Homo sapiens: one gene and its partners. The protein of the gene in region 3 purifies or fractionates together with the protein of the main gene of each other region. This does not show direct contact. Each region holds a gene or a part of one and is shown on either strand. Other genes may lie near its edges. The genes, in order: GPATCH11, CHERP, RBM17 and RBM5.

Region 1 (8,369 bases), on a different chromosome or scaffold from region 3:
TTCAAGCCCCATGGCTCCTCACTGCCCTCTGAACAGAGTACAAACATTTCTTCCCTGTAGGCCAAGGCTACCCTCCCTTCAGAAACCTCTCCTGACCACTCCAGGCCTTTCTCTACAGCACTTTATGTCCAAGCTGCTCATTTGGAAGTTGATATAGTTAACAACTCACTTATGTGGAAATATTTTGAGGGACAGTTTCTATCCAAAATAGTTAAAATCATGTAATTATTGGCCCTTAAAGGGTTAAAGTAATTTTCTACAAAAGTACTTCTCAAACTTTATTGTGTATACAAATTGCACTGAGATCTTCTTAAAATGCAGAATCTGATTCTGGGGCTGGAACCTGAGGTTCTGCATTTCTAGCAGGTTCACAGGCAATGTCAATGTTGCTAGTTCAGTTGCTTAAGACAAAAGTGTATTCACTTGTTGTGGTGCATATGTACTGTTTTTTCCTGCCTACCATCTTTTCCTTTGGGAATCCAACCCTCTGCCCTTCATGTGGTTTTAGTGGAGGGTGGCAATGTCAGTATCCCATATTTCCTTGGGCACAAAGATGGTCAATTATAGTACTCTATGTCCAGCACCAGGGGACGAGATGACCCAGCCAGAGAAATAACCATCTTTTTCCTTACATTATATGAATATATGGGTTGTGGGGGAAAGAAGGTCTTTTATGGGTGTTTCTGAACTGGGAGAATGTGAAGCTGGGCTGTGGATGGCCATCTTCTTGGCCCCATGAAGGGATCTTGTCTGAAGAATGAAGCCAGATAGAGAAAATGAGCCTAGTTTCCAAGGCTGCGGATTCTTTGAAGCTGCGACTTAGCATTCTACCCCATTACATAGACTAATACATTTCTGCATTACTTAAGCTTGCTGAAGTAGGGTTTCTGTCAACTGCAACCAAGTGTCTAGACAATTACACTGGATGAAAAAAGGATTACTATACTAATTTTTAATGGTTTTCTTTTTTGTTTTTTGAGACAGAATCTCGTTCTATCACCCAGGCTGGAGTGCAGTGGTGTGATCTCAGCTGACTGCAACCTACACCTGCCGAGTTCAAGCAATTCTCATGCCTCAGCCTCCCGAGTAGCTGGGATTACAGGCATCCACCACCACACCCAGCTAATTTTTGTGTTTTTAATAGAGACAGGGTTTTGCCATGTTGGCCAGGCTGGTCTCAAACTCCTGGCCTCAAGTGATCCACCTGCCTCACTCGGTCTCCCAAAGTGCTGGGATTACAGGCGTGAGCCACCACACCTGGCCTGGTTTTTTATATTTTTAATGTATATCTTCTCAACTAGATAATGTATATCTTGTGTTAAACACAAAGACAAGTCCCCTATATCCTCCCTACCTACCACTGCATCCCAAACACAAATGCTTAATAATTGTTTAGCAACAATGAGGATAAAAAGGGTCTTTAATATTTGTAATTTTATAACTTTTTCCTATGTCAACAAGTCATTTTTAAACACTTTTTAAATACGTACAGAAAACACATAAAACAAATGTACAGCTTAATACATTTCTGTGAGTCAAACATTCTTGTAACCATGTGGTACCCTCCAAAATGACTCCCAGTCATTCTTGCTGTGTGGTTTTCTACATCCTTAGTGTAGTCTCCTTCCACAGTGAACAGGATTAACCTGTGTAACCAACAGGATTTTGTGGAGATGATGGAGTTGATTTTTTGGTCATAACTGCAGCTCTTAGGTCATTCTAACTTTGAAGTTAGATGACTCACTTGAAGGAAGTCAGTGGTCACATAATAAGGATACTCAAGAAGCTCTATGGAGAAGGTCACACGATTGGAACTGAGTCCTCCTATTAAAAGCCAGCACAAACTCATGAGCCACAGGAGTGAGCTACCTTGGAAATGGATTCTCTTGCTCCAGTCAGGCCTTCAAATGACTCAGCCTGGGCTGGCATCTTCACTGCAACTTCTTAAGAAAGTCCATGCTAAACTAAGCTAAGCTGCTAACAAATTCCTGACCCATAGAAACTGTGAGATAACAAATGATTACAGTTATCTTAAGCTGCTACATTTGGGGATAATTTGTTATGTAGCAAAAGTTATCAGGAAGTAGAACCTTATCAGGCACCTGGGAGCCCTCTTTGTCCCCTATCCAGTTGCAACTCTCTTTTGGTTCTAAGAATAGTCACTATTCTGTTTTTTATGGCAATCATTTCCTTCATTTTCTCGATAGTTTTGTCATCCACGTGTGCATCTTTAAACATTACAGTTTAGTTTACCTATTTTTATTATAAGTTAAAAACGTGCACTATTATATACAGCATTTATGGTAATTCACCCGCTTCCTCTAAACCTCAGATTCTTCATTGGTAATAACAGCATTTTTACACATAATGGTTTAACACTTACCCAGTATATCACACATTTTTATCACATTTAACCACCACTAACAACTCTACAAGGTAGGAAGAGTTTTTCCTGTTGGAGAAATTAAGGTTCAGTATGGCTAAATGACTATTTCAAAACCACAAAGAATCCGGGTCATAGTGCCTTGCAAATAGGATTACATTGTTTTTAAGAGACCTACTTAACTTTAAAGTGCCAGGCACATCTGAATGGGGTTACAGGTTGCTTTTAAAGCTCTCTTTCTATTGGTAAAATATACTTTAGCATTATCCATTTCCATCAAAGATAAGCATAAACTTCACAAGGCGATACCCTGGCAGAGATGATGGAGGCTCGTACCAGAGTGATAGCAATGCAAGTGGTCGCATTTGGGGTACACTTGAAGGTAGAGCTTACAGGATTTGCTGATGTTGTAGGTAGTACGTAAAGAACGATGTCAAGATAACGCTAAGTTTTTGGCCTGAATACATGGAAGAACGGAGTTAACGTTTTTTGAGAGTGGGAAGACTGTAGGAGTAGGTTTGTTTTTGTTTTTTTAGGGGGCGTAGTCGGGAAACAGACATATTGAGAGTCCCATTACATATACAAGTGGAGAAATGGACCTACAGTATAAATGTGACAAGAAACGTCCCACTCTCAATACTACGCTCAGGAACCGCTGATCCCTTCCCTCACGCGTTCCTCCTGGCTGCAAGCGTCCCACAGACGCAACCACCCACGGATGGAAAAGTGGCTGACGGTGTGATACGGTAGTCATGGCCAGCGCACTCTGCCTTTTATCATTCTACCGGTTGTCCCCAGACCCTTACCTGACAGCTCTCTTACCTGACAGCTCTCTGCTCGCCCCGGTTCAGCGCCGTAGAGCGCGCGCTGCGCATGCGCCCACCGACCAGCGTCGGACTTCCGGACCTCGGCTCCCACCAGTTTCCTAGTGCAGACTCTATTGGAAATTCGCGGCGGGTGGGGATAGGAGGACGTGGTGACTGCGCTTGCGCAAGACCAGCCCTCCGCGCAAGCGCTCTTCCCTTGTTTCCTGCAGGTAGGAGTGCGGGAGGTGGGGCATCCGGGTCTCTTGGTGGCTGCTTCTACCCCCGGAGCTCAGCTGATCTTCCCTTCCAGACTACGAGGTGAGGTCGCCGAAGCATGCATGTTGACACGCACGGACTCCTGTCCGACGTACATTTTCAGACGGGTGGGGAAGACATTTGAGTTCGTAATGAACATTTTCCCTTTTCTGGCTCCGTGCTTAGTTCCGAGCTGCCGCCTCGTGCTATTGACAGCCTGCGGAACCCCACGGAGGCTTGCGGCGGCCTCTTGGTGTTTCCCCGGGTCCGCCGCTTGCGGTTCTTGGAGTAGCCAGGTGAAGCCAGACCCCGAGCGCGCGAGGCTTCTCGGGTGCATTCCGGACCGCCTGGTGTTGTCACTGACGCTTCGGCCGCCGGGCCTGGCCGCCCCACCCATCCGCGTAGGAAGAGTCTTGGAGACCTGCAGTTCGGGATGTCTGTGCTGGGTGTTTTGACCTCAGTCCCTCTGGCCAGGTGCAGCGCGGGAGGGTAAAGGTGCTATGTACCGAACCCTGGACGAGAAAAAGAGGAGGATGGTTGTCAAGCCCGGCTGGGGTGTTTGATCTTAGTGCTTCAGTTTTTTCATTTATAGAACGGGTAAATGACATATGTGTTGCTGGACATATTTCTTCTGGAATAATGCCTTTTTTGGCAATAATTTCTTTTAATTTTCTTTTCACTCCATGAGTCACTCTTCCTTACCAAGTAGTTTTCTTCTGTTTTTGTTTGTATTTTTGTCATTTAAAAGTATGTTCTCAGGTTTTGCCTCAAAGAAGTTGAGTTTTTCCCCAAATGAAATGAGTAGTCCTACTTTTCTTAGTGAGTATATTCCATTAAGCTTGACTTTTAACATTAAAAAATACTTACAAGTATTTTTTACTCTGTTAAATTTAAGGTGTGAATTTCAAACTTCCGTAATGGAGTTAGCCCACAGTTTATTGCTAAATGAAGAAGCTTTGGCTCAAATCACCGAAGCAAAAAGACCAGTTTTCATCTTTGAATGGTTGCGATTTCTTGATAAAGTCTTGGTTGCTGCCAACAAGGTATGGTATTGCTCTTTTTTCCCAGTTGCATTAACGTGAAGAGATTATGTGGTCATGATTCTTAAGAAAACACATGTTATGTTTTGGAAGGTTTATGGGTCACTTATGGAACTTGAGAGTATTACACGAATGGGAAATTTAGTGGCAAAACTCAAACCTCGTTTAAATCCAGCTCATTGCCTATCTTCTTTATGTTTGTACCTGGGCAGCTCATTGTAACTGGAGAAAAACATGGCTATATGACTGGTGTCACTTTAAATTTATCATCGTCACCCGTTGCAAGTGATCTCTCTATGCTGCCTAACAATCCCAGTGTCTTCACTTATCTCTTTGAGGAGTCAATAATAGGCTCTTTTTTTTTTTTAATCTGTTTTTTCTTCCTGCATAGCCTTGATTTGCCGAGACCAGCTCGTTTGGGGAGACCCTAACCTAGCGGCGCTAGAGGAATTAAAGACACACACAGAAATATAGAGGTGTAAAGTGGGAAATCAGGGGTCTCACAGGCTTCAGAGCTGAGACCCCGGAACAGAGATTTACTCAAGTGTCTATTAACAGCAAGCCAGCCATTAACATTGTTTCTACAGATATTCGATTAGCTAAAAGTATCCCTTATGGGAAACGAAGGGGTATGCTGAAACAAAGGGGTGGGTCTGGCTAGTTCTGTGCAGCAGGAACATGCCCTTAAGGCGCAGATCGCTCATGGTATTGTTTGTGGTTTAAGAGCGCCTTTAAGCGGTTTTCAGGCCAGGTGTTCCTTGCCCTCATTCGGGTTTCGTTATGGCCATCATGAACATGTCACAGTGCTGCAGAGATTTTATTTATGGCCAGTTTTGGAGCCAGTTCCCAACATTGATTCAACTTACTTTTTATTGTCTGTGTATTTTATATTCTGTCTTTAAAAGTAGATATGGCCCGGCATGGTGGTTCACGCCTGTAATCCCAGCACGTTGGGAAGCTGAGGTGGGTGGATCACCTGAGGTCAGGAGTTCCAGACTAGCCTGGCCAACATGGTGAAACCCCGTTTCTACTAAACACTGCTAAAAGTACGAAAATTAGCCAGGCGTGGTCGTGGGCGCCTGTAATCCCAGCTACTGGGGAGGCTGAGGCAGGAGAATCGCTTGAGCCGGAAAGGCAGAGGTTGCAAGGAGCCGAGATCGCACTAATGCACTCCAGCCCGGGGGACAAGAGTGAAACTCCATCTGAAAAAAAAAAAAAAAAAAAAAAAAAAAAAAAAAAGTAGATACTTCCCTCAAATGTCTGATGATCTTTGGCTGCCTGATCAAATTTAAAAGTGAGTAGTAAAAACTTTTCTCAGCAGGGCCAGTCTTTTAAACTGGACTTCACTGTAGGCTAGTTTGGTCCCTGACCTTAGTATTTTAGGTTTCTGTAGGCTAGTCATTCCCCAGAAGATACTTTTCTACTGTCGTGTCTGAAGAGTATATAGCTAGCTGGCTACATTCTTGGAGTTGTGGGAGAAGACTGGGGACTTTAAAGTTCAGTATGTGAACTTTCACTGCATCTCCCCATTTTCAGTGCAGTTTTCCCAGACCGCAACTGTGCCTGGACTCTTCTAGTCTGGACATACAATATTTCACTCTTCCCAGAGAATAAACTTTCAGTCTGCTTCCATAATGAAGAAGAGGATTCTTTCTGCTTATTAGACTCTCAACCATTCCCTCTATCTCAAGGTACATACAACTTCACTCCCACCTCCAAAAGCACCTAGGGCTTAAAAAAACCGTGATCTCTTAGGGGGTCCTGTGTTGTAAGTTAGGTCATTTTGCAGCTTTCCCTGTTGGGAACAGTTGGTTTCCAAATACTGTGTTGATTCTTTCTCCTGTTTTCTTTACCCTTTGGATTTGTGCTTTGTTGTTATTGTTCCTGTTGTTGTTGCTACCCTTTAGTATGGTTTTAATGGAATTTCTATAGAAACAGTCAATGCATGACCTAATGTAAATGACGAGTTAATGGGTGCAGCACACCAACATGGCACATGTATACATATGTAGCAAACCTGCACATTGTGCACATGTACCCTAGAACTTGAAGTATAAAAAAAAAACAATGCATGGATTCACTTGTAATTGTCAACTAGACGTTTCTGTTTTCTCTTAAATCCTCTACAACTGGGGATTTACTTCCACTCCACTGAAACAGCACTTGTCCAGCCATTACTGATGACAGATTGCCCAGAACAGTGGTCAGTATTCTGTCTTATTTGATCCATCTCCATCTTTTCACCTTGAAACACTTAAAACGTCTTTAATTTTGTTCTGAAATTGATAAATACAAGAGTGTATAAAACAGGAAGCATAATATGAATATCTGTACACCCTCCACCCAAATTAAACAATAAGATTGTTATCATTGCTTTGCACAGTTTGTGTGAAGTTTTCTTCCTGTTCGTGGCTTCCCAAGACGCTGTTAGGTTTTGGTTCCTCTCCCACTTCACTAACTACTACTTCTTGTTCTTTTTTAACTCTTCCTCAGTTCAGGGCATTTTTTTTTTTTTAATCTGTACATATTCCTTCAGTGATATCATCTAATTGTATGATTTTTACTATCATCTATAAAATAATGATTCCCAGGATAATGTTTACTCCACCTCTTTCTTATCTAAGTGGCATCTCAGAGTTAACATACCCAAACCAAATTCTTGATTTCTCCTCCCAAACCTGCCCTTTCCCCCATGTTCTCTATCTCAGGAAATGACCATTTCATCCTTCTAGTTGCTCAAGGGAAAACCATAGAGTCATTTTTGACTTCCCTCTTTTTCTCAAATTTCATGTTGTATTCACCAGCAAATCCTATGGTTTCATCCACAAACAAATCCAGAGTTTATTTATCATCTCTATGGTTACCGCTATTATCTCTCATCTGGATTATTGCATCTGCTTCCTATTTGGTCATGATGCTTTCCATTTATGGACCATATAGAGTATTCTTAGAAGTCAGAGTGAGCCTGTTAAAAACATTTAGATCACGACCCTCCTCTGCTTCAAACTCTTACTCAGAGTAACATACAAAGTTCTCTTACTGAGAGTGACATACAGAGTTCTATAGTGGGGTGCAAGAGATTACCTGATGTGGTCCCTTCTATCCTTCTGAATTCATCTCTTACTACTTTCTCTTACTCCACTGCAGCCAAACTGGCCTTCTTGGTGTCTTTAAGGATGCTAAGAATGCTCCAACCTCAAGGCCTTTATACTTGTTCCTTCAGCCTGGAATGTTCTTCCCCTGGGTATCTGCATGGCTCACCCCTTCACTTCTTTTCAGAGAGAGGCCTTTTCTAATTAATCCACGTAAAACAGTAACCACCCATACTATTCATTTGTTTGTTTGGTAAACTCTGTCCCTCCTCACTAGAATGTAAACTTAATGAGGGCAGGGACTTGTTTGTCTATTTTGTTCACTGTTGCACCCTAGTATGTGGCATACGTTAAGTACATAATAAATATTGTTTGAATAAATAAATGAATTCTAGATATTGATTATGGGTAGAGCTGGGTATTTTTTTTTCCTGTTGTCTAGGGCTCTTCAGTTTCTTTTGGTTTCATTTGCTGACCTGTAACTTTATGAACTACTGACTTCACTTTTACATAGGAAACCTATCTGGGTTGTAAGACATCAGTTGTCCATACACCCAATATTTTGCATCCTTTGGCTGTTGGTTTATTTCTTAGTAAGTTGGTCTCATAACTTTTTGAATCAGAGTCACTTTATTGGAGCTAACCTTTTGGCTTTGGAGGAGCATGAAGGAGAATATTTAATGTAGGAAAGAATGGCTCATTTCTTACAGAACTTTTCATTAACTTGAAAATTCTCACGGTTTATGTTTAATACAATATAGATTTTTAATTATTAGAGTGCCTTAAGTGTTAA
Region 2 (7,049 bases), on a different chromosome or scaffold from region 3:
GGCTACATTCCAGAAAAAAAATATCAACTTATACAACTAAAATAACTGAACTAAGGGCCAGTACGCCTTCGAAGAATTAGGTTTCAGAATCTCACTGGGCCTCCTCTCAGGTCAGTATTCTTCTTTCTAGACCTAAACCAAGGAGAGTAAAAATGAAAACCCTGCTTCACTTCGCAAGTCAAGTCAAAGTTTTGTGTTTCTGTTTTTCAATCCGCGGGCAGTCATGGCACTGGGCTTCGGCTTTGTCCCTACACAGCCGAGGGGAAGCCAGGTCAGGGCCGGTGGGTGCGGGGAGCTGGAGGAAGGAGCTGGGGTGCCGGCTCTGGCTCAGGCCAACCCTTCCTGCACATGCTCCTCCTGGAGCCTAGGAGGAGGCTTCAATCTGACTTAGGGCAGATGCACATCCATCCCTTCGTGGCTGAAGAATTTACTCGGGCGGAGGGTCTTGTGTTTTTTGCTTCGCTATAAAGGAAAACGAGCCTGGGGCCCTGGTGGCTGCAGCGCCTCCTGGTGTGGTTTGTGGGTGGCACCCGTGCCCTCCACGCCATGGAGCACGGCGTTCCCACTGGGCATGCGCTGGTCTTCCTTCTCTTCCTGTGGCTCTCCACAAGTGGAGACGGTGTAAGAACTGAGCTGTCACTGCAATCTTCCTCTGCCAGTCAGCCAGGAAGGTCCCACAGCCGGCACCGCTGGCCACCGGCGCGGCTCCCGGCATGGGCGCCTACTTACACTCGTCCCTGGCCTTCATGCGGGCGATGAAGGAGTAGCTCTTGTTCCTGCGGTAGTTCTCATAGGGGTCATCCAGAGCCACGCCCACGCCTTTATACTGGTCCCACTTATCCCGGACGTCCCCGCCCTTGATGGGGTCCTGGATCCCTTGCTCCTTCGCACCGAGGCCGCCTGAGCCGCTCCAGCCTGGAAACAGAGACGCAGTCACAACCACAACAAGGCGGAGGCAGATGGGGGTGCACGTGGGGGGCTGAATGTCCAGACAGGCAGTGTAGACATGGGAAATGGGTAGAGAGAACCCGCAGGCCGGCCCTGTCTAGAGGGTCTGGGTGGAGTCAGAACCGGCCTGACTCCATCCATCCCCACATGCACTGAGGAAGAGAAAGCGCTGGTGACTCCCGGGCCCAGCACGCGTGAGGACCCATCCCGCGCCCTCCCCATTCCCTCGCCTTACCCATCTTCACCAGCATCTGATGGCCTTTGTTCTCTTCTCCGAGCCTTGAGTCAGGGATGGGAGGCGCCGAATTAGAACCCAGACCAGCAGAGGAACTAAAATCGAGACAGGTTATTCTTTTTAAGAAGTAACTGAGACATTTATTGGAATGACAGTGATGAGGACCTCACAGCCGCAGCTTGCGTGCATGCTCACTGTCACCAGGTGACACCGTATGCAGATTTTGCGTCTCTACCCGTTTATCCTGTCTCAGCTAGATAAGGGGGCTCCAGACGCTGGCCCCCACCCCACGCTCAGCATTGAGAGCAGGACACCTCCAACCCAGATGGTGGTTAGAAAGCAGACCCCAGTTACTGCCTCAGGCTTCGCCAAGTGGCTACTGTGGTGAAGGGTGAGGGGTGCCACTGTCCCCGGGCTAATGCTGGCGGCCTCCTAACACAGTCTCCTAACCACCAATGTTTCCACATTCACAGCAAAGCACCGCAGCTTCCCAGAGTTACCAGCGCAGCACTTAAGACAGGATCTTACGGCGGGGTGGGGCTCCTGGACCGTGACCGGCGTCTTCTTCCTGGGGAGTACGACTTGGACCGGGACCGCGACTGGGACCGGGAGCGGCTTCTGGAGGAGCGCGACCTGCTCCGACTTCTGCAGGGAAGGGTGCCCAAGGGTCAGCAGCAGCCAGGCGTCGTGGGGAGGCCACAGGAAGAGGCCTCAGGCACTGCCCTGAGGCAGCCTCTGCCTACCTAGATCTGGAGCGGGAGTAGGAACGGGAGCAGGAGCGCGACCTTGACCTTGAGTACGAGCCTGAAGACTTGGAGGATCTTGAGTTGGAGCGGGAGGAAGAACGCCCTCGACTCTTGGATCTGCTCCGAGACCTCGAGGGTCCGCTGTGGGGAGAGGCCTGATGATCAGGTGCCCCAGTGGATGGGCTGCACCCAGCCCACCCTGGCCCTCAGGTTCCTAGACCACCCCAGATGCAGGGGCTCTGGCTGTGGATGTGGCGCCATAGCCACAGCAACGGTACCAAGTTCCTAAATAGTGTGGCCGAGCCTGCTGCTGTGTGAATTCAGGCCTTGTGGAAAACACCGCCCCATAGGCACAGGCTGTGTGAGGGTGGACGTGATGAGTGTATCTGGGGTCTGCTCCCACCCATCACAAGCTGTGGACCCTGGCCCCCCGGCCACTGCAGACATCTGCGCTTTTACCTGTTCCTCTTCTCCTGGCCTTTCCTCCGCCGGGCCCGCATTTTTGCTCGGAAGAACTCATAGAGGCCGTTCTGCTCCCAGCCTTCACTGTAAGACACGGCATTCCGTGTGTGACCACGTGACACCCACCCACAAGGAAGTCGTGAAAAAGTCATCAGGAGTTAATCCACAGAACCTTGGAGAGTACATGGCCCTGTGGCTGTGGGCTCCGAGCATGGGCGCAGTAGAGCTTGGTTCAGTGTTCCCACAGGGCTGTCCTCCTGCAGCCCAGTGGCTCCTCTGGTGCCCACGCCCTTGCCACCCTGCTGTTCCGCTGAGGTGGTGGGGACCCATGGTCTGTGGAACTGGGAAACAGGAACACTGACTCATGGGTGGACAGGCCTGCAGCCCAGCACAGGAAGGAGGGGTGACCACTGGGAAGGGTGGGCTGAGGGCCCTGTGGCAGCCGGCTGCTTGAGACGTGCCGCCGTGCCACACCTTCCCTAACTTCTTCTGATGTGTCTCCATTAAAACGCCCTTCATTGAGGGCCACGTGTGTGCTGTGCCTGTGACACACACTTGTCACTCAGGCGGGGGGAGGGCAGTTTCTCCTGAGGGACAGCCACATTTTCTAGCCTGGACAGAAGGTGTGGTTGCAGGGAGCCGGGAGAGGGGACAGAGGCCTCCCGCCCACCCCACTGACCTGGGCCCCTTACCTGTTCCTGGGCCTGTCGTGGGACGGGGGGCTGTAGAAGGCCTCCACTGCAGCCAGCAGCCTCTCGCTGGGCGGCATGGGGGGTGGGAGGCGGATGTCTTTAGGGTCCAAAGGCTTGTACTCGTGATCTTCCAGCTGCAGCAGAGAACCCCAGCTGTCACCATGCCTGGGCAGAGCCCTCTCAGGCCCACCCAGGGTCTGCAAGGAGTGGGGTCAGGGCAGGGCCCAGGTTCAGTGTCAAGGGTACCCTGGGCACCAGAGCTCCTCATGCTTCCCTCTTGGGGATCCCACTCTCTTGTAGGACCTCAGCCACACCAACCATGGTGGGTCATAGCTGCTCTGAGGCTGATGACAGTCACAGGGTTCTCTCTTCAGAAAATCACCCACAGGGGACATGGTCTCCAAACTCAGGTGACCTGAACACCCTCTGGTTTATTCAGACATGCAGCGGGCCCCTCACGTCACCCTTTGCTTGCAATGCCTACCCTGGGCCCCCGCTCAGAACAGCCTCAGCCCCGGCCCTGGAGCCCCCTGGCCTGTATCCTTCTTCTGCTCCGTCTCTGTCCTCCTGTTGAGGCCCTGCCCTGCCTGGCTTGCCTGGGCCCCCGCCCGCAGCTCTCCCTGCTGCCCATGGCTCCGTGAAGTCTGCCTGGACTTCAGGTGGATGTGTCTGAGGGGGTGGGAAGTGGCAGTGGCCAGCATGCCCTTGGAGGCCCCAAGCCCCGGCCCTGGCCTCCCCAACCCCCCCTTTTTTTTTTTGAGACGGAGTCCTGCTCTCGCCCAGGCTGGAGTGTAGTGGCGTGATCTCGGCTCAGTGCAAGCTCCGCCTCCCGGGTTCATGCCATTCTCCTGCCTCAGCCTCCCGAGCAGCTGGGACTACAGGCGTCTGCCACCACGCCTGGCTAATTTTTTGTATTTTTTAATAGAGACGGGGTTTCACCGTGTTAGCCAGGATGGTCTCGATCTCCTGACCTCGTGATCCGCCCGCCTCGGCCTCCCAAAGTGCTGGGATTACAGGTGTGAGCCACTACGCCTGGCCAGACCTGGCCCCTTCTTGCCTCACCTCTTGCCCTATGCTCCGGCCATCCCACAGTGGTACCAGCTGCTGCCAGCCCTGCCCGGCTTCTCCAGGGCCACCCCCCTCCCTGTGTGCTTGGTAGGCACAGCTCACAGGTGGCTCCTTCTAAGACATTCCCTCCATCAGCAGCCCTGGGACAAGGTGCTTCTGAGGCCCTGGACCAAGAAGGACGAAGAGAGGACTCGAGCCTCATAGCCTAGCTAGCCCCACATGGCTGAAGCTCCCTGTGGTGGGAGGGATAGGAGGGGCAGGGCAGGGCAGACATGGTGTCGCTCACAGCCACACCGTGCTACTCCGGTTCGGCACCTCCCACTGACGGATCAGGGTCCCTAGGGAGTGGGAGATGAAGGGGAGCCCCGGAAGGCACCCGGTCCCGTGCATTCACTTTTCACAAGGAGAAACGGGGACCAGTATGGTAAGCGTGCTCAGCTTGGAGCCCACTGTGGGGCATTACCTTCACGAGGGGGGCCATCAGCCCAGCAGGGAGATCGAAGTAGGGCACATTGGGGACCAGGCTGGGGTCATCGTGGTTGATGTGGGGTGGGCCCTGTCGCCGCATGTGTGGGGGCTGCCCGTTGAAGCCATGGGGGGGAGGGCCGAAGTCAGGGTGCTGGGGTCCAGCCCAAGGCGGGTGCTCGTTGATGCCAGGATGAGGCATGCGGTGGCCAGGGTGGTGGTGAGGGGGCCCCATTTCTGCAAAACAGAGACTTGCCTCAGGACCACAGGCCAGTCAGGATCTCCCAGGCGACAAGTGCTGGAGGGGAGGGGCTCAGTGAAGGGCCAGGAGACGAACCCCTCCTGGGAGCCTGTCCAGCATCTTCTCTCACTGCTTAAGACCAGGCAGCAAGGCACCGAGGAGCCAGGCTCCGAGGGGCCTGTCCCGCACCCATAGGCACAGCCGAGGGAGCTTGAGGCTGAGAGAAGAGAACCCCAAAACCCCAAAACTGCACGGTGAGGGCTAAGTTGTGACCCTCCGAATCCATACGCTGAGGTCCCAGCCCCCAGTAGCTCAGGACGGAACTGTATTTGGAGACAGAGCCTTCAAAGACACAAATGAGTTAAAATGAAGCCATAGTGGCCCGAATCCAACGTGACTGTTGCCGTTATAATAAGAGATTAGGACACAGACATGTAGAGAGAAGACGGTCACCTATGAGCCAAGGAGACAGGCCTCCAAGACACTAACCTGAACCCGCCACACCTCCACCTTGGACCTCCAGCCCCCAGATCCTTAAGACAATACATTCCAGCTGTTGAAGCCGTCCAGGCTGTGGGACTTATCATGTCAGCCCAAGCCAAAAAGTAAAAGCAATAAATGTGCCAAGCGGTCTTCAAGCTGCATTTATAATCAGAAATGTATTTAAAGAGAGAAGGCTGGGCATGGTGGCTCACGCCTGTAATCTCAGCACTTTGGGAGGCCAAGGCGGGTAGATCACTTGAGGCCCAGAGTTTGAGACCAGCCTGGCCAACATGGCGAAACCCCATCTACTAAAAATACAAAAATTAGCTGGGCATAGTGACTGATGCCTGTAATCCCAGCTACTGAGGAGGCCAAGGTGGAAGAATCACTTGAACCCAAGAGGAGGCTGCAGTGAGCCGAGACTGTGCCACTGCACTCCAGCCTGCGTGACAGTGAGGCTCAGTCTCAAAAAAACAACAAACAACAACAACAAAAGGCCAAGCGAGGTGGCTCACACCTTTCATCCCGGCACTTTGGGAGGCCGAGGCGGGCGGATCACCTGAGGTCAGGAGTTCGAGACCAGCCTGGGCAACATGGTGAAACCCTGTCTCTACTAAAGACACAAAAAATTAGCCAGGCATGGTGGCGCACACCTGTAATCCCAGCTACTCGGGAGGCTGAGGCAGGAGAATCATCTGAATCTGGGAGGCGGAGGTTGCAGTGAGCTGAGATTGTGCCATTGCACTCCAGCCTGGGCAACAGGGTGAGACTCTGTCTCAAAAAAAAAAAAAAGTACTAAAAGATTAGAAATAAAATCAATAACAAAGATACTAGGCATGGTGGCTCACATCTGTAGACCCAGCTACTCTAGAGGCTGAGGTGGGATGACTGCTTGAGCTCAGGAGTTTGAAAGTAGCCTGGCCAACATAGCAAGACCCCATCTCTATTTAAAATAAAATAAAATTTTTTTAAAAAAGAAAAGTAGTTTTTTGTTTTTTTTTTTTGAGACAGCGGTCTGTCGCCCAGGGTGGAGTACAGTGGTGCGATCACAGCTCACCGCAACCTCAGCCTTCTGAGCAGCTAGGACCATAGGCGCCCGACACCACGCCAAGTATTGATTTTTTAAACGAACTAATACAACGGGAAAACTGATGCAAAAAACAAGCAGCAGCAGTAAAAAGAACGAGGCCCCGCCCTGCCCTCGCCACGCCCACCCACGGCAGGAACCTTTTCCTACTGGCTCTGCCTCATCTGCAGCCAGCCGGGCCTCATCAGGGCGGCAAAACTGAGTCTGTGCCCCCACTTCCTGAGAACCCAGGCCGGGCTCCTCGGACGTCCCATGACCCTGTGTCTGTCACTGTGCACTCAGGAGCATGGCAGGGCCACAAGCAGCGCCACCAGCCTGCTCGGCAGGCGAGCCGTGGATGCCTCCGCCAGGCCCTACCCAGGCGCCCGTACACTCACCGGCAGGGAAGTCCCCCTGGGGGTAGTCGAAGCGGTGGGGATAGGGCGGCCGCTCGAAGGGGTGCCGTGGCGGGAAGTCGTCCTGCATGAAGCGGGGCGGGAAGCGGTTGAAGTTGTGGGGGTGCGGAGGCTGGTTGAACTGCGGGTGCTGCTGGTGGGGCGGGAAGGGCCCCCGGAAGTGTGGGGGCCGCTGCATGCGGAAGGGTGGCTCGCGCTGGCCCCCGCCCCAGGGCGGCTGCTCGTGC
Region 3 (7,756 bases):
GGACTTGGGCACGCTTGGATTTTGGTATGGGCAGGGGGGTCCTGGAACCAATCCCCTGTGGACACCAAGAAACAACTGTATTTTTTCAAATGGAGATACAAATGAAACCACAGCTTCAAATTTTCTCTACCAAATAAATACCTTTACAGGTTTGGCTAGGCCAATCTAGTATTCTGAGTAACTAAACAGCCTAAGAGAATGCAATCTTCACTTCCCTTAAAAAAAAAAACCCACAAAACTAACTGTACATAGCAATCTCAAAAGTTTTATAAAGTTAGTAGAAATAACTTCACAAGCTACCTCAAGTTTTAAAAATCTATATGAGGCCGGGCACGGTGGCTCACACCTGCATCTTCCCTGCAAAGCAAAAGTTACATGAAATCTACAAAGATTTTATAAATGTACTTTTAAAAAAAATTAAAGAGAAAAACGAGGTTTTGCTAACCCTCCTTACATTTGGAATGAAACCTTGTTTTAAAAAAAACACAAAATACTGGCATCCAAAAAATCTAAATTTGGTAATGATGAATTTTAAAAACACAAAAAAACCTCTCTACAATACTGAACAATCAAATGTAAGCACTTCCATGTAAGTATCTATTGATGTGGTAAAGGGAAAAGAAAAATGAGTAGAACTTTTAAGAAAAAAAACCTGTGTATTGGCCGGACACGGTGGCTCACGCCTGTAATCCCAGCACTTTGGGAGACCAAGGCAGGCGGATCACGAGGTCAGGAAATCGAGACCATCCTGGCTTACAAGGTGAAACACCGCAGGCGCAGTGGTGGGCGCCTGTAGTCCCAGTTACTCAGGAGGCTGAGACAGGAGAATGGCGTGAACCTGGGAGGCGGAGCTTGCAGTGAGCTGAGATCATGCCACTGCGCTCCAGCCTGGGCTACAAAGTGAGACTACGTCTCAAAAAAAAAAAAAAAAAAAAAAAAAAAAAACAAAAAACCTGTGTATTACGGAAATTTTCAAACATGAAATTAGAGATTAATATTAATTCTTAAGTCTCTACTATCCACATCCAGTTTCAACAATTATCAACTCATGGGTAGTTCTGTTCTTCCCTCCCTCCCCTGCCCGGGACTGAATTGTTTAGAAGTAAATCCCAAAAATGACATCATCTTATCGGTAAATATTTCAGTACACATCTCTAAAGTACTTTTTCTCAACTTTAATTACTGCCTCCCCAGCAAGGAGCCTTTGACTAAATTTTCTCCCGCACATGAAATTTTCACACCACAGATACACTGTGCACAACACGAGCAAGGTTTTTTCACCCCCAAAAAGACCAATATTCGCTCTGTTTGGGGGGATATAGCCTCCATTACGAATGCATACTCTAGAACATAAAGATCTCTAAAGTAGTAAACAAACCATAATACCATTCTCATGCCTACATTTTAATGGCAAATATCCAGTCGACAACTAGGTTTTTAATGTTTTACATGTTATTTCAAGGACATTGCCAATACCCAACATGTACACAACAGAAACAAAAGCAATCAGCATCCAGACTACCTATGCCTGACGCCTTCACAATCAACCTGAGCCCTCAATAAGTTGCACGCAGCAGCTTAGGTATTCTGTGGAGCTTCTTCCCAAAGTGCTGCTTCCAAACTACCTCCACCAAACCAGTAGGAATGCTACTTAAAAATTCCCACTCCTGGGGCTCCAGCCTGAACTACAGTTTACCAGAATATCAGGAGTAAGGCTACAAAATTAGCACCTTAAACAAGTTCTCACTCAATCTTAGACCTCCACTACTTAAGTTTGAAAAGCAGTGTCACTGCTGGTTCAGAGTACTGTTTTTTTGTTTGTTTGTTTGTTTGTTTTTGAATCGGAGTCTTGCTCTGTCGCTCAGGCTGGAGCGCAGTGGCGCGATCTCGGCTCACTGCAAGCTCTGCCTCCCGGGTTCACGCCATTCTCCTGCCTCAGCCTCCCGAGTAGCTGGCAGTACAGGTGCCCACCACTGCGCCCGCGGTGTTTCACCTTGTTAGCCAGGATGGTCTGGATCTCCTGACCTCGTGATCTGCCTGCCTTGGCCTCCCAAAATGCTGGGATTACAGGCGTGAGCCACTGCGCCCAGCCCCCGCAGAGTACTGTTTTTCTTCATTCCTACCCCACGAAATGTTCCTATTCCCAGGAGCCAGGAGTAGCAAAGTGGCCTTAAACTCCTCATTCCTCTCCCCCTACAAATGCTTAACACCATTTACCCAATACAAAGGCAGAAGAGCAAGCTGAAACCAAATTCCTTGTCATCCTAATGAGGAACCCACTCTGGAGGCCTCTGCTCTCATGCTCTGGGCTTGTCTTTACCTTTGCCTGAGTGAGAGCTGCCTTCTTCACCTGAAGCTGAGACTGCAGAAGTTTGAAGTTTTTGGACCAGCCTTCTGTTTTTGAGTCACTGGTCTCCACTCCTAGGTCATCGTACAGGGACATCTTTTCTTCAGTTTAATGCTGAAAGGCAAAAGGGGTGGGGATTAAAGAATGCACAATTCAATAAAGGCTTTTCATGTTAAAATAAGTATCATGAAATTTTAGAGGTAAAAGGTCCAGGACCTTTCAGCAACAGAGGCCCAGGCTCCTGGTACCATTAATGTAGGGCTATTCCTGATACATGAAGCTAGACCATGGATTATTTTTAAAATAAGCCTCTAAAATTCATTTTTCCATCTATAAGATCATGCAGTCAAGTGATCCATGAGTGAAATCCTTCAATGCTAGGGCACATAATGAGGTAAGAATTGGAACATTATTAATTACATATATCCAATTTTTAAAAAATTCTATTTATGTCAGTGCCAAAAAGTAGAAGCTTTACAAAAACACCAATTAGCAGGTTGATGTAGCACAATTAGCTACCCTTTTATAAAGAAAAAATTTAAACGTACTCCTAGGGAAAAAAATGACAGAAATGATCTCTTAGATGTGATTTTGTCAATTACAATTATCAAGGGGGGAGTAGACTGGTTACATCTTAAATACTCTGATTTCCTCATATCACACCAAGTGGAAATCTGTCATCTTTAATGATAGTGATTACAAAGAGACAATCAACAATCTGCATGTGAACGAGCAACACACAGCTTCCGTGCAGAACAGAGGAACACGTGGAAACAAAAACCGAGTCAGCAGGCGCAAAGCATGACATGCAATGCAGCATCGGCAGCAGGTCCCATGAAAGCCCAGCACTGCACAGACATGGATGCTGGGGTTTAGGGAATCAATCTGCCCAAGGCCACAGCGGAAGCCCCTTCCAACCCAGCCAGGCCAACTCCAGAGCCCTCGCCAGTGAACCCCAACTGCCACTTTTTAAAAAAAAAATCAACATTCTGAAACCCACCAACATAGCTTACTTCTTCAAATAAGAAATCAATCTCACAGACAGAAAGAGAACTTAATTTAAACAGAAACCCACAAATTGCAAGTAAATGCTTAGCACAGTAGTTCCCAGTTTATGGACAAATAAGTCTGTCAGTTCCCAGGGGGCCCATAAAGCATTTTCCCATGGAAACCGTGTTATTGAAAAGCCTAATTTGCTTGTGTTCTGTGGCTCAGGAGAGGAGGAAAATATTTAACACATACCCTCCTTAGGTCTGATTCGGCAAGCATTTCTCTTGAAGGTACTCTTACTTCTCAGCTCCCCCATTACAGGGATTCTAAGACCCTGCCGCCCCAACACCTTCGCTGATGTTGGTACCACACTGTGTGGAGTGGGGGACGGAGTGCACACCAACTTCTGTTCCCTCAGAAGAACTGCCCTGGTCTTAAGTACAGTAACTCCCTGCCTGAAGTCAGCACCCCAGAAAACTGTCACCACTTTTTAGTTTCTTCCATTCCTTCATACGTGAACCCTCAAATTAACTAAAACCTCTCCATTTTGATTTTTAAATGAAAGGTCCCCGCAAGGCCGTAGAGAAGCAGGGAAAGCAGACTGTCCAGGGGTATTGATGGCCGACTGCTCAAATGAATCACATAAGAATGAAGGGATGGTCAGGCACGGTGGCTCACGCCTGTAATCCCAGCACTTTGGGAGGCATAGGTGGGCGGATCACTTGAGGTCAGGAGTTAAGAGATCAGCCTGGCCAACACGGTGAAAACCTGTCTCTATTAAAAATACAAAAATTAGCTGGGCGTGGTGGTGGGTGCCTGTAATCCCAGCTACTCCGGAGGGTGAGGCATGATAATCGCCTGAACCCGGGAGATGGATGTTGCAGTGAGCCAAGATCACACCACTGCACTCCAGCCTGGGTGACAGATAAAGACTCCGCCAAAAAAAAAAGAAAAGAAAAGAATGAAGGGATGCCGGGATGCAGACAGACTCTCCTCCTGATAGATGTCTTCAGTGCAAAACTGACCTTTTTCAGGAACTTGGGGATGTCTCGTGACAGGCCTGAAGCACTGAGGCCAAATCAAGAAAAAATAATGAACTCCATTCCTTAAGAAATATGGATGAAATATAACCATGTCCTCAAAGTCTTGGAGGGAATCCCCTGATGTCCACTTCAGAGCCTAGTTTAATAACTCTGAACTCCAAGAAAACCTAGATCCAGGTTGTTCTGTTCACTGCTCTATCCCCAGACTAAGATCAATATCCAACCCACAGCTAAATAGGAAATGAGGCCAAACTGCAGTTTATACTCCATTTGCGAAGCCCTCTCAATTAGAAATTTCTGGCCAATAATCACTGGCCAGAAGGAACAACACTGCACCAAACAGCTTTTGAGGCTTTTGTACACTTTTCTTCCAGCTTACCCAGAACTCAAAACTCATTGTTCACATCTAGATACATACCCTTAAATTTTAATCTAAGAAAACTCAAACAGAGCAACAGCACAGAAAAACCATGCTGAGTGTCCAGCTTAGCACTGTGGCTCCCAAACACATTTCTTCAGAAATGACCATGCACCTTTCATCTAACTTAGTTTAATCTTTTGAGCCCTCTTCATCCAACTGGTCAGCAAACCAAAGCCTACTGAACTACAGGTTCTTCTGTTCTTTCTTTATTCTTAAAATGGAAAGGGAATACTAACAGATTCTGAGAAATAAACAATGCGACTTTCTGGGAAATCACAAAGATAAATCAAAATTTGTTTGCAACTCAAACTAAACTCTAGATATTTGCTTTTCTCAATACAGACTATCTCCAGTATGAAAATCTGAAATCCTTCAAAACCTAAAACGTTCCGAGCAACAACATGACCCCAAAGTAGAACATTCCACACCAGGCCGGGTGCGGTGTCTCGCACCTCTAATACCAGCACTTTGGGAGGCTGAGGCGGGTGGATCACGAGGTCAGGAGATCGAGACCATCCTGGCTAACACGGTGAAACCCCGTCTCTACTAAAAATACAGAAACAAAATTAGCCAGGCATGGTGGCGGGCACCTGTAGTCCCAGCTACTCAGGAGGCTGAGGCGGGAGAATGGCGTGAACCCAGAAGGCAGAGCTTGCGGTGAGCCAAGATTGCACCACTGCATTCCAGCCTGTGTGACAGAGTGAGACTCTGTCTCAAAAAAAAAAAAAAAAAAAAAAAATTCCACACTTGACTTCATGTGATGGGTCACAGTCAAAAACAGAGTGAAATCTTTTTGCATGCATAAAATTATTAAAAGTATGACATATATTGCATATTCAGGCTATGTGTAGAAAGTATATATGAAGCATAAATGAATTTTGTGTTTAGACATGGGTCGCATCCTCAAGGTATCTCATTATGTATATGCAGGCATTCTAAAAATCTAAAAATATCCGAAATCTGAAACACTTCTGGTCCCAAGCATTTTGGGTAAGGGATACTCAACCCATTTCTCTTTATAACTTGAGAACTTTACCGAAAGTGTTTATGAATACGTTAGTGCCACCAGAAATGGGTTAACCAAATGCCCATTAAACTTCGAGGGGAAAGATTCACTTATTTATTTTTGCATCTACAATTTCTGTCATATAGCAAGCATTTAATAAGCTTTATTAAAATACTAATAATGGGCCGGCTGCGGTGGCTCATGCCTGTAATCCCAGCACTTTGGGAGACCGAGGCGGGCGGATCACTTGAGGTCAGGAGTTTGAGACCAGCCTGGCCTACGTGGTGAAAACCCATCTCTATTAAAAATATAAAACTAGCCAGGTGTGGTGCTGCACGCCTGTAGTCCTGTCCCAGCTGAGACAAGAGGGTGAGATAGGAGAATTGCTTGAACCCGGGAGGCGGAGGTCGCAGTGAGCCAAGATTGCACCACTGCACTCCAGCCTGGATGATAGAGCGAGACTGTCTCAAAAAAATAAAATAAAAAATAAATAGGCAAAGAGGCAGCACTGGGGAATAAGGGAAGGAAGTAACCCCCAGAGAGGGAGGCAACACTCCTCACCCTCCCCAGAAGAGTCAACTCTGATGAAAAGAGTTCTCTAAACTTTGAGGCTAAAAATCTAGCAGTGTACTAGATCTCAGCTGCCAACAGTTCTTCCATCAATAGATTCAATATTTAGCAAAAATTAAATAGTGAATTAATGAGATTTTATGAGACCACACATCTCCTCTGATTCCATGTCATTTAAGATGGCTGACTGACAATTCCAGTTGATTTGCTGCATTGCGCAAAAGTTTCAGAAATCATCAGGCAGCAAATCTCATGCTCATTTAAAGGTCCTCATTTCTCTTCTCAAACCTGCAAAACGCTTTAAATATTAGAAACTGATGTCATCTTACCAGCACCTGCTAGTTTTCTGTAACATTGAGCTTATAAAATCAAATCTCTGCATCACAGCAAATGCAAAAGTGCTTTCTTCGTTTTTCTCATTTTCACTGAATTTTAAGTTCACAGAATGGGATTAATCATAGTAACATCACACTCTCATCCATTCACACACTTATTACCTGCTTTTGTTTAATTATTATAATGCTGCAAGCACCTGTGAATTCACCACCCAAAACAAGACAGGATCTAGACTAAGAAACCACACTCAACCATACTACTCCCCCAACCCATTCATGTAATTTCCCCGGAATCCTCTTCTCATTATTTCCTTGCTTTCCTCCTTTTATGTTAATTTTATTTACAGTTTTAGTTAATCTATTCCTTAAAAAGTGTGTATTCTTTATTTTCGCTATATTAAGCATTTAATATACAATAGTTTGTTCATTAATTCTCCCCACCGCAACTACTGAAATGTAATAAGTACATTAATAAGACTGCCAAGACCCAAACTTACCCTAATTAACGTTGACATTATTACTTAGACAACATAACACATTTATTTCATTAGGTCTGCTGCCAGGTAACAAAAAGCTGTACTTTGTAACAACTGGATATACCATAAGAAGCCAGGATCAAAAGTAAATACAAATTGCTGGTTTTTATAACTTTAAAATATTTGCTATTTCCTTCCTTTTTGTGGCAACACTTCCCTTTGAGCAACCCACGTTTCATATATGCTACATTTTTTCTTAGGAAACATAACAAACATGGTTCTGCCAGAAGGAAGAATGGTGAGTTTTCAAGATTCCACCCAAGCTGGAAAGTATTTTTTTAAAACATGTGCAACTGGCAGGAAAAAGAACATGGAAGAGTCTTCTCAGAAGCACCCCACCTACTTATCTTTCAAGTGCATCTCAGAAGCCTTTAGTGACTATTGCCCCCACATAAAACTAACCCCCCCCAACTGGTTTCCTCAAGCATACTCAGATCACAGCAACCTTGGCAAGTTATGCTGCCTATTGTTTCACACAGCGGTTTCTTCCTGCAGTGTAAGCCCCCTA
Region 4 (7,359 bases), on a different chromosome or scaffold from region 3:
TGTGACACCTCTCCTCTGTTGCAATTCCTGCTGAGCTTGGGTCCCTTCACCAACACCTCCTTCCAGCTCTGTGCTAGTGTTTACACCCTGTGTGTGGTTGCCTGGTATCCAATGGATTCTATGTGGATGGGCCCAATGATGAGCTGTTGTCATGGCAGATGTCTGAACTCCATGACACGCCCACCTGTTCTGGCTGCCTGGTTTATGTAAATAGTCTGTGGAACAGAGTGAGACAAATTGCTCTTTGGGTGCCCTCTAGGTAGGCCCAGGGATTAAATTAATGGGAACTAGACTTTTTAAATTTTTATTATCATTTTTTTTGAGATGGAGTCTTACTCTGTTGCCCAGACTGGAGTGCAGTGGCATGATCTTGGCTCACTGCCACCTCCTCCATCTCCCAGGTTCAAGCAGTTCTCTTGCCTCAGCCTCCTGAGTAGCTGGGATTACAGGTGTGCCATCATGCCCAGCTAATTTTTGTATTTTTAGTAGAGATGAGTTATCACCATGTTGGCCAGGCTGGTCTTGAACTCCTGACCTTGGGTGATCTGCCCACCACCACCTCCCAAAGTGCTAGGATTACGGGCATGAGCCACTGCTCCCGGCTGGGAACTAAACTTTTTAAAGAAATCATATTCTATTTTTACTCTAGCAGTGTCACACCTCTTTGCTAGGTGGTTCATCACCTTTACTTATACCAAGGTGTGCCCAGGGTCTTTTCTGGGCAGGAAATATCACTAGTCCACAACATACTTTATCTTTTTTTTGACAAAATATGTAATCGACTGACATAGCAGAAAGTCTGCATTAATTGTTTTTTGTTTGTTGTTTTCTAGTACTACTATAATTCCTTGACCCAGCAGTACCTTTACTGGGATGGGGAAAAAGAGACCTACGTGCCAGCTGCAGAGTCTAGCTCCCACCAGCAGTCGGGCCTGCCTCCTGCAAAAGAGGGGAAAGAGAAGAAGGAGAAACCCAAGAGCAAAACAGCCCAGCAGGTTAGAACATGACCCATATTTCTTTCATTGAGGTATTGGGCTGAACTCTTAGTTTTGGGGTTGTAGCATTTATGTCAGTATTATTTGGATTCTTAAAAATTGGGCTTCACATTTTATTCATACTAAGTTCTTAGAGCATTTTGCAATTTGTTATTGTTACCATATCTTGACTGTCAGCCTGTGTACTTAGGGAAAAAAGCCCTGGAAATCTCAAAGCTTTTCAAGCAGTATTTATGAATGACTTTGGTTATATGTGATAACATCTAATGGAAATATTTGTAGGTGGAAGTAAGAGTAAAAGGGGTTTGTTACAGGGCATATAGTTGAGATAAGATCCTTAATGGCTCATTCTCATGGCACAGGGGATTAAATATTTTTTTGTTGGTGTTTGTTGTTTGACATTAGATTGCCAAAGACATGGAACGCTGGGCTAAGAGTTTGAATAAGCAGAAAGAAAACTTTAAAAATAGCTTTCAGCCTGTCAATTCCTTGAGGGAAGAAGAAAGGAGAGAATCTGCTGCAGCAGACGCTGGCTTTGCTCTCTTTGAGAAGAAGGTAATAGCAGGAATGGCCAGTATGTCATGATGGGAACTTACCTAAAACTTGAGTCTCATGGCTTGTCCTCTGTTTCCCAGGGAGCCTTAGCTGAAAGGCAGCAGCTCATCCCAGAATTGGTGCGAAATGGAGATGAGGAGAATCCCCTCAAAGTAAGGGAGTACCACCAGTGTTTTAAAGACCCTATCTGTGGTTTGTGTCTCACTTTAAGGCTCAACTGCATCTTGGCTAATGTGATTCCTACTTAAAACTGAATGTGATCACTGTTGATGGGTATTGGAGCAGTTTCTGCACATAGATTCCATGTCGGGGCTTTGTTTTCTGTGAGAGCAGATGAGATGGAGTGATGAAAGAAGCTTCAATTCCTAAGCTCAGTTAATTAAGTTTCATTGCATCTGTGAGTGGAGAGTTTTAATGGTCTGGAAAGAGAAAATTAAGACAAGAAAAAGCTTGTTTTACTAGATAGATACTGGTCTGGGTGGGCCATTATTCTGATATGTTGTATTTGGGATTTTTATTTGTGGTCAGTGGTTTGAAAATAGTCACTCAGTCTAGGCAACATTGCAAGACTTCGTCTCTACTGAAAATTAGAAACAAATTAGTTGGGTGTGGTGGCTTGCATCTGTACTCCTAGCTACTTGGGATGCTAAGGTAAGAGAATTGCTTGAGCCCAGGAGATCAAGGCTGCAGTGAGCCACTGCACTTTTTGGGGATCATACCATTGCACTCCAGCCTGGGCAGTGAGCAAGACCCTGTCTCATTTAAAAAAAAAAAAAACAAAAACAGTCTTGGCACAGTGGCTCACACCTGTAATCCCAGCACTTTGGGAGGCCAAGGCAGGCGGATCATTTGAGGTCAGGAGTTCGAGATCAGCCTGACCAATGTGGTGAAACCCCATCTCTACTAAAAATGCAAAAGATTAGCCAGGGGTGGTGACAAGCGCCTGTAATCCCAGCTACTTGGGAGGCTGAGACACTTGAATCACTTGAACCTGGGAGGTGGAGGTTGCAGTGAGCTGAGATTACGCCACTGCACTCCAGCCTGGGCAACAGAGCGAGACTCCTTCTCCAAAGAAATAGAAAAAGGTAGTCACCCAGGAATCCATTTCTTAGGCTCCAAGAAGGTTGGTACCAGGAGGCTGTCAGGCCTAGCACTCAAGGACCTGACTGCTCCACGCAGTTGACAAAATGTGATTCATTACTAAAGTGTGACATGCAGTAATGGGGATTTGTTAACATTTCGGATGAGGCATTACTTTATCCAGGTACATAGCCACCGCCATCTTCCTATTGTACATTTCCAGTGACCTGTCCTCCTTTTGTCTCCAGAGGGGTCTGGTTGCTGCTTACAGTGGTGACAGTGACAATGAGGAGGAGCTGGTGGAGAGACTTGAGAGTGAGGAAGAGAAGCTAGCTGACTGGAAGAAGATGGCCTGTCTGCTCTGCCGGCGCCAGTTCCCGAACAAAGATGCCCTAGTCAGGCACCAGCAACTCTCAGACCTTCACAAGGTGGCCATGCTTCTGAGCTGATCTGAGGGGGCGAGGGGAGGCAGTGAGACAATTTGAGTGCCCTAACAGTCCTGACGGTTCCAAAAATACCTGCCATCTAATGATGGCCTTACAGAAAGCTGTTCCCGATGACAGTGGACGGAGTCTGGCAGCTCCACACACATCAAACTATAGTTTTTATGTGATTGTGTATTGTTTGGGCTTTGGCTCTTAAAGTACAGTAGATGTTACTAATGTTAGGACATTTCAAATTAAGATGGTCTGAGTCCTTACTGTGTCTTTCAAATCTTTTGTGTAGCAAAACATGGACATCTATCGACGATCCAGGCTGAGCGAGCAGGAGCTGGAAGCCTTGGAGCTAAGGGAGAGAGAGGTGAATGGGAAACTGTGCCACAAGGAAGAGGATATTGGGATAATTGCCTTTAGCTTTTATTTGTAGCATTTAGTTCCAGATCCCAGGGGCAGGGTAGGAGGATTTGTCATACCCTTGTCATCTGACCATTGTAGTTCATGTAGCCTAGACCCAGCCTCTGTGTGCCTTGTGAGCCTCACATTGTCCCTTCATCATAAGGGTGCACAAGGCAGAAGCACACTGCCGAGACTCTCTCACAGCAATGCCAGAGCTTGCTGCTTAAATACGCTGGATTTTGTTATGGAGAGAGTGGTCTAGTTTGGCCTGGCCAGGGAAGCCTTCATGGGCAAAGAAGTGCGCTTCAAATTAATCCCAAGGGACAGCAGGACGTGAGGTTATTGCAGGTGATATGAAAGGAAGGGTGGGCAGGGCATGGCAAGCAGATCTGGGAACAAAGGCAAGAGAGAAGCCTGTGACACAATAATGGGCAAGCAGTTAGTGCTGGTGGTTGGGGCAGGTTGGCGGCCAGGTGGGCAGGGATTTAAATGCAAATAGAGGCCTGTGGTTTAGAAATGAGCAAGTGGGTTTGAAATCTCCCACCTGAGATATTTCTGAAGTGTTTGTAGTTAAGGCTTTTGCTTTTCTTCTCCCCACACCCTTCCTGCCCTACTATCTATGGTTCCACCTCCCCAGCGACTGCTGAACAGGTCTCTGGAAGCCTCCTTGATGTTGGAGGTATGCCTTTCCAAATGTTGGAGGTATGCCTGTCCAAATGCTGAGGAGAACGGGCAACTCTGCCTTCCTCTTCGCAAGCTGTACCCACTGCCCAGTGGGCTGGTTGAGTAGCTTGACAGAGGGTGGCTAATTAAATAAAACTGCTTGTTGGAGACATAGTTCTGCCCCTGGTTCCACACAATTCATATTTACAAATTTAACATTTCAGATATGACTAGGTATGATGATGGGAACAAGGGAATTTGGTATTTCAGAGCAGTCTAAAAAAAGCATTCTTCAGATTTAAAAATACTTGAGGGGATAGTTTTGAATAGGTGCATTAGACGGTTACAGGTTGAAGTCTGTGAACATTTCCAGCAGTGTTTTTTCTCCCATGTAGATGAAATACCGAGACCGAGCTGCAGAAAGACGGGAGAAGTACGGCATTCCAGAACCTCCAGAGCCCAAGCGCAAGAAGCAGTTTGATGCCGGCACTGTGTATGTGATGTGCACATTTTCCAGTTCGTAAGCTGGGGCCCTGGCTGTTTTAAGTAACTGTGTGTTTGCCACTGGCAGGAATTACGAGCAACCCACCAAAGATGGCATTGACCACAGTAACATTGGCAACAAGATGCTGCAGGCCATGGGCTGGCGGGAAGGCTCTGGCTTGGGACGAAAGTGTCAAGGCATTACGGCTCCCATTGAGGTAAGCAGTGGGGTCAGGTCTTGATGTTTGCCAGGCTTACAGGCCGGTTCCAGAGATGAGATCAGAGCACTCATAGAGCCTGGGAGCCAGGAGCAGCTTTACCTTAGCATGAAGGGGCAGATTACAGGCATGAGCTCACACCTGTAATCCCAGCACTTTGGGAGGCCGAGGAGGGTGGATTGCCTGAGCCCAGAAGTTTGAGACCAGCCTGGGCAACACGGTGAAACCCCGTCTCTACTAAAATACAAAATATTAACTGGACGTGGCAGCGTGTGCCTGTAATCCCAGCTAGTCAGGAAGCTGAGGCAGGAGAATTGCTAGAACCTGGCAGGAGGAGGTTGCAGTGAGCCGAGATCACGCCACTGCACTCCAGCCTGGGCAACAGCGACTCTGTCTCAAAAAAAAAAAAAATTTAGTAGGGTTTTCACCCATGATAAGAAATCTTTAAATTGATCAGAGCCCACATTGAGGCATCATATCCCAGGATCGGAGGCCCCTACCCACTGGCCTTCTAGGCAGGAGCTCCACCCGTAATTGCCCCTGCTCTGTCCTGGGAGCACAGCTTAGGTCAGACTCTTGTAGACCATGTTCATCCTGTTTATGTGAGTTCTGCTGACATTGAGCTATCCTGTATAATGTGTGCCTGTAATTACCATACCTTTCCCAGACCTTCAGAGGAATACTTTGGGGCCCTTTCCTAGGCGTGGATGCTTGCTGAGCAGGCATTGAGGGGTGGGTGATTTGCTTCATCTGCCTGTGTTCCGTAGCCCATTTTATTCCTCCAGTCCTTATACTTGCTCCTGGTCTCTTCTGGAGAAATCCTTGTCTTCATATACAGTTTTCTCTCTTCTGTCTCCTGGTGGGTGGTCCTGCTGGGTAAGGAGTGGGCATGGTGAGAGGTGGAGCAGCCCATACCCTACCTCCCAGCTGACAGTCTCTGTGCTTTCCCAGGCTCAAGTTCGGCTAAAGGGAGCTGGCCTAGGAGCCAAAGGCAGCGCATATGGTTTGTCGGGCGCCGATTCCTACAAAGATGCTGTCCGGAAAGCCATGTTTGCCCGGTTCACTGAGATGGAGTGAGAGAGAGAGAGAGAGAGAGATGACAAGGAGCACAAGAAGTGGTCCATCTCCCGAATTCGCTGTTACCGCCTGTCTCTTTAAGGGCATGCCTTGTGCTGTTAATAGATCTTAGGGTGAACCACTTCATTCTGCAGGGTTCTCCCTCCCACCTTAAAGAAGTTCCCCTTATGTGGGTTGCCTGGTGAATGGCCTTCCTTCCCGCCAGAGGGCTTGTGAACAGACCGGAGAGGACAGTGGATTGTTTATACTCCAGTGTACATAGTGTAATGTAGCGTGTTTACATGTGTAGCCTATGTTGTGGTCCATCAGCCCCTCACATTCCTAGGGGTTTGAGATGCTGTAGGTGGTATGTGACACCAAAGCCACCTCTGTCATTTGTTGTGATGTCTTTTCTTGGCAAAAGCCTTGTGTATATTTGTATATTACACATTTGTACAGAATTTTGGAAGATTTTCAGTCTAGTTGCCAAATCTGGCTCCTTTACAAAAGAAATACCTTGAGAAATGGGTGTCCTGTGTCTCTTTATTCTTGGGTGGGTAGGTGGGTCAAGCATGTCTGAGCCAGTCAAGCCTGGTGATGAAATCAGTTTATTTCTTGCCCCCATCACCACGTTCTGATTGATTGATTGATTGATTTTGAGGCAGGGTTGGCCAGGCGTGGTGGCTCACACCTGTAATCCCAACACTTTGGGAGGCCGAGGCAGGTGGATTGCCTGAGGTCAGGAGTTTGAGACCAGTCTGGCCAACATGGTGAAACCCTGTCTCTACCAAAAATACAAAAAAATTAGCCAGACGTGGTGGTGTGCACCTGTAATCCCAGCTACTCGGGAGCCTGCAGCCTCGACCTCCCGGGCTCACGCGATTCTCCCACTTTAGTGTTCCAAGTAGCTGGGACTACAAGCACATACCACCATGCAGGCTAATTTTTTAATTTTTTACAGAGATGGGGCCTCACTCTGTTGCCCAGGCTGGTCTTGACATGTTCGGATTTTTAAATTCAAGAGTTTAACATGTTTTAGCCGGGCGTGGTGGCTCACGCCTGTAATCCCAGCACTTTGGGAGGCCGAGGCAGGCGGATCACCTGGCGTTGGGAGTTCAAGACCACCCTGACCAACATGGAGAAACCCGTCTCTACTAAAAATACAAAATTAGCTGGGTGTGGTTGGCCTGTAATCCCAGCTGCTCGGGAGGCTGAGGCAGGAGAATTGCTTGAACCCAGGAGGCGGAGTTTGCAGTGAGCCGGAGGTCGCGCCATTGCACTCTAGCCTGGGCAACCAGAGCAAAACTCCGTTTCAAAAAAAAAAAAAAAAAAAGTTTAGCATGTTTTAAAACTCTTCATGGAAATCATGGTAACTTAGTAGCTTTTCTGCTAAGACCAAAGTGACCATGAGTGCTTGCACCTCTCTAGTTTCCACAGACTTTATTCCACACATGCCGGAGTGTGGAGTTGTCA

Evidence for each region.
Region 1: the proteins of RBM17 (region 3) and GPATCH11 purify together in Homo sapiens (affinity purification with mass spectrometry; 3 studies listed by BioGRID and IntAct, with this or other methods). This does not show direct contact.
Region 2: the proteins of RBM17 (region 3) and CHERP purify together in Homo sapiens (co-immunoprecipitation; 5 studies listed by BioGRID and IntAct, with this or other methods). This does not show direct contact.
Region 4: the proteins of RBM17 (region 3) and RBM5 purify together in Homo sapiens (co-immunoprecipitation; 3 studies listed by BioGRID and IntAct, with this or other methods). This does not show direct contact.

The regions. Positions count from the first base shown.
Region 1 is NC_000002.12:37,079,407-37,087,775, reverse strand, and holds the start of GPATCH11 (G patch domain-containing protein 11), read right to left. Parts: upstream 3,259-8,369; 5' UTR 3,206-3,258; exon of another isoform or gene 3,190-3,205; intron 2,453-3,189; exon of another isoform or gene 2,384-2,452; intron 1-2,383. Other genes in the region: HEATR5B (HEAT repeat-containing protein 5B), read left to right, coding at 4,362-4,487.
Region 2 is NC_000019.10:16,518,438-16,525,486, forward strand, and holds part of CHERP (calcium homeostasis endoplasmic reticulum protein), read right to left. Parts: coding exon 6,805-7,049; intron 4,854-6,804; coding exon 4,615-4,853; intron 3,218-4,614; coding exon 3,084-3,217; intron 2,916-3,083; exon of another isoform or gene 2,476-2,915; coding exon 2,389-2,475; exon of another isoform or gene 2,071-2,388; coding exon 1,927-2,070; exon of another isoform or gene 1,829-1,926; coding exon 1,712-1,828; exon of another isoform or gene 1,657-1,711; intron 1,279-1,656; coding exon 1,184-1,278; intron 916-1,183; coding exon 722-915; 3' UTR 1-721. UniProt on the Homo sapiens protein: Involved in calcium homeostasis, growth and proliferation.
Region 3 is NC_000010.11:6,091,753-6,099,508, reverse strand, and holds part of RBM17 (splicing factor 45), read right to left. Parts: intron 2,462-7,756; 5' UTR 2,444-2,461; coding exon 2,321-2,443; intron 1-2,320. UniProt on the Homo sapiens protein: Splice factor that binds to the single-stranded 3'AG at the exon/intron border and promotes its utilization in the second catalytic step. Involved in the regulation of alternative splicing and the utilization of cryptic splice sites.
Region 4 is NC_000003.12:50,112,550-50,119,908, forward strand, and holds the end of RBM5 (RNA-binding protein 5), read left to right. Parts: intron 1-833; coding exon 834-995; intron 996-1,400; coding exon 1,401-1,550; intron 1,551-1,630; coding exon 1,631-1,702; intron 1,703-2,878; coding exon 2,879-3,058; intron 3,059-3,356; coding exon 3,357-3,431; intron 3,432-3,472; exon of another isoform or gene 3,473-4,524; coding exon 4,525-4,622; exon of another isoform or gene 4,623-4,700; coding exon 4,701-4,830; exon of another isoform or gene 4,831-5,699; intron 5,700-5,781; coding exon 5,782-5,907; 3' UTR 5,908-6,472; downstream 6,473-7,359. UniProt on the Homo sapiens protein: Component of the spliceosome A complex. Binds to ssRNA containing the consensus sequence 5'-AGGUAA-3'. Regulates alternative splicing of a number of mRNAs.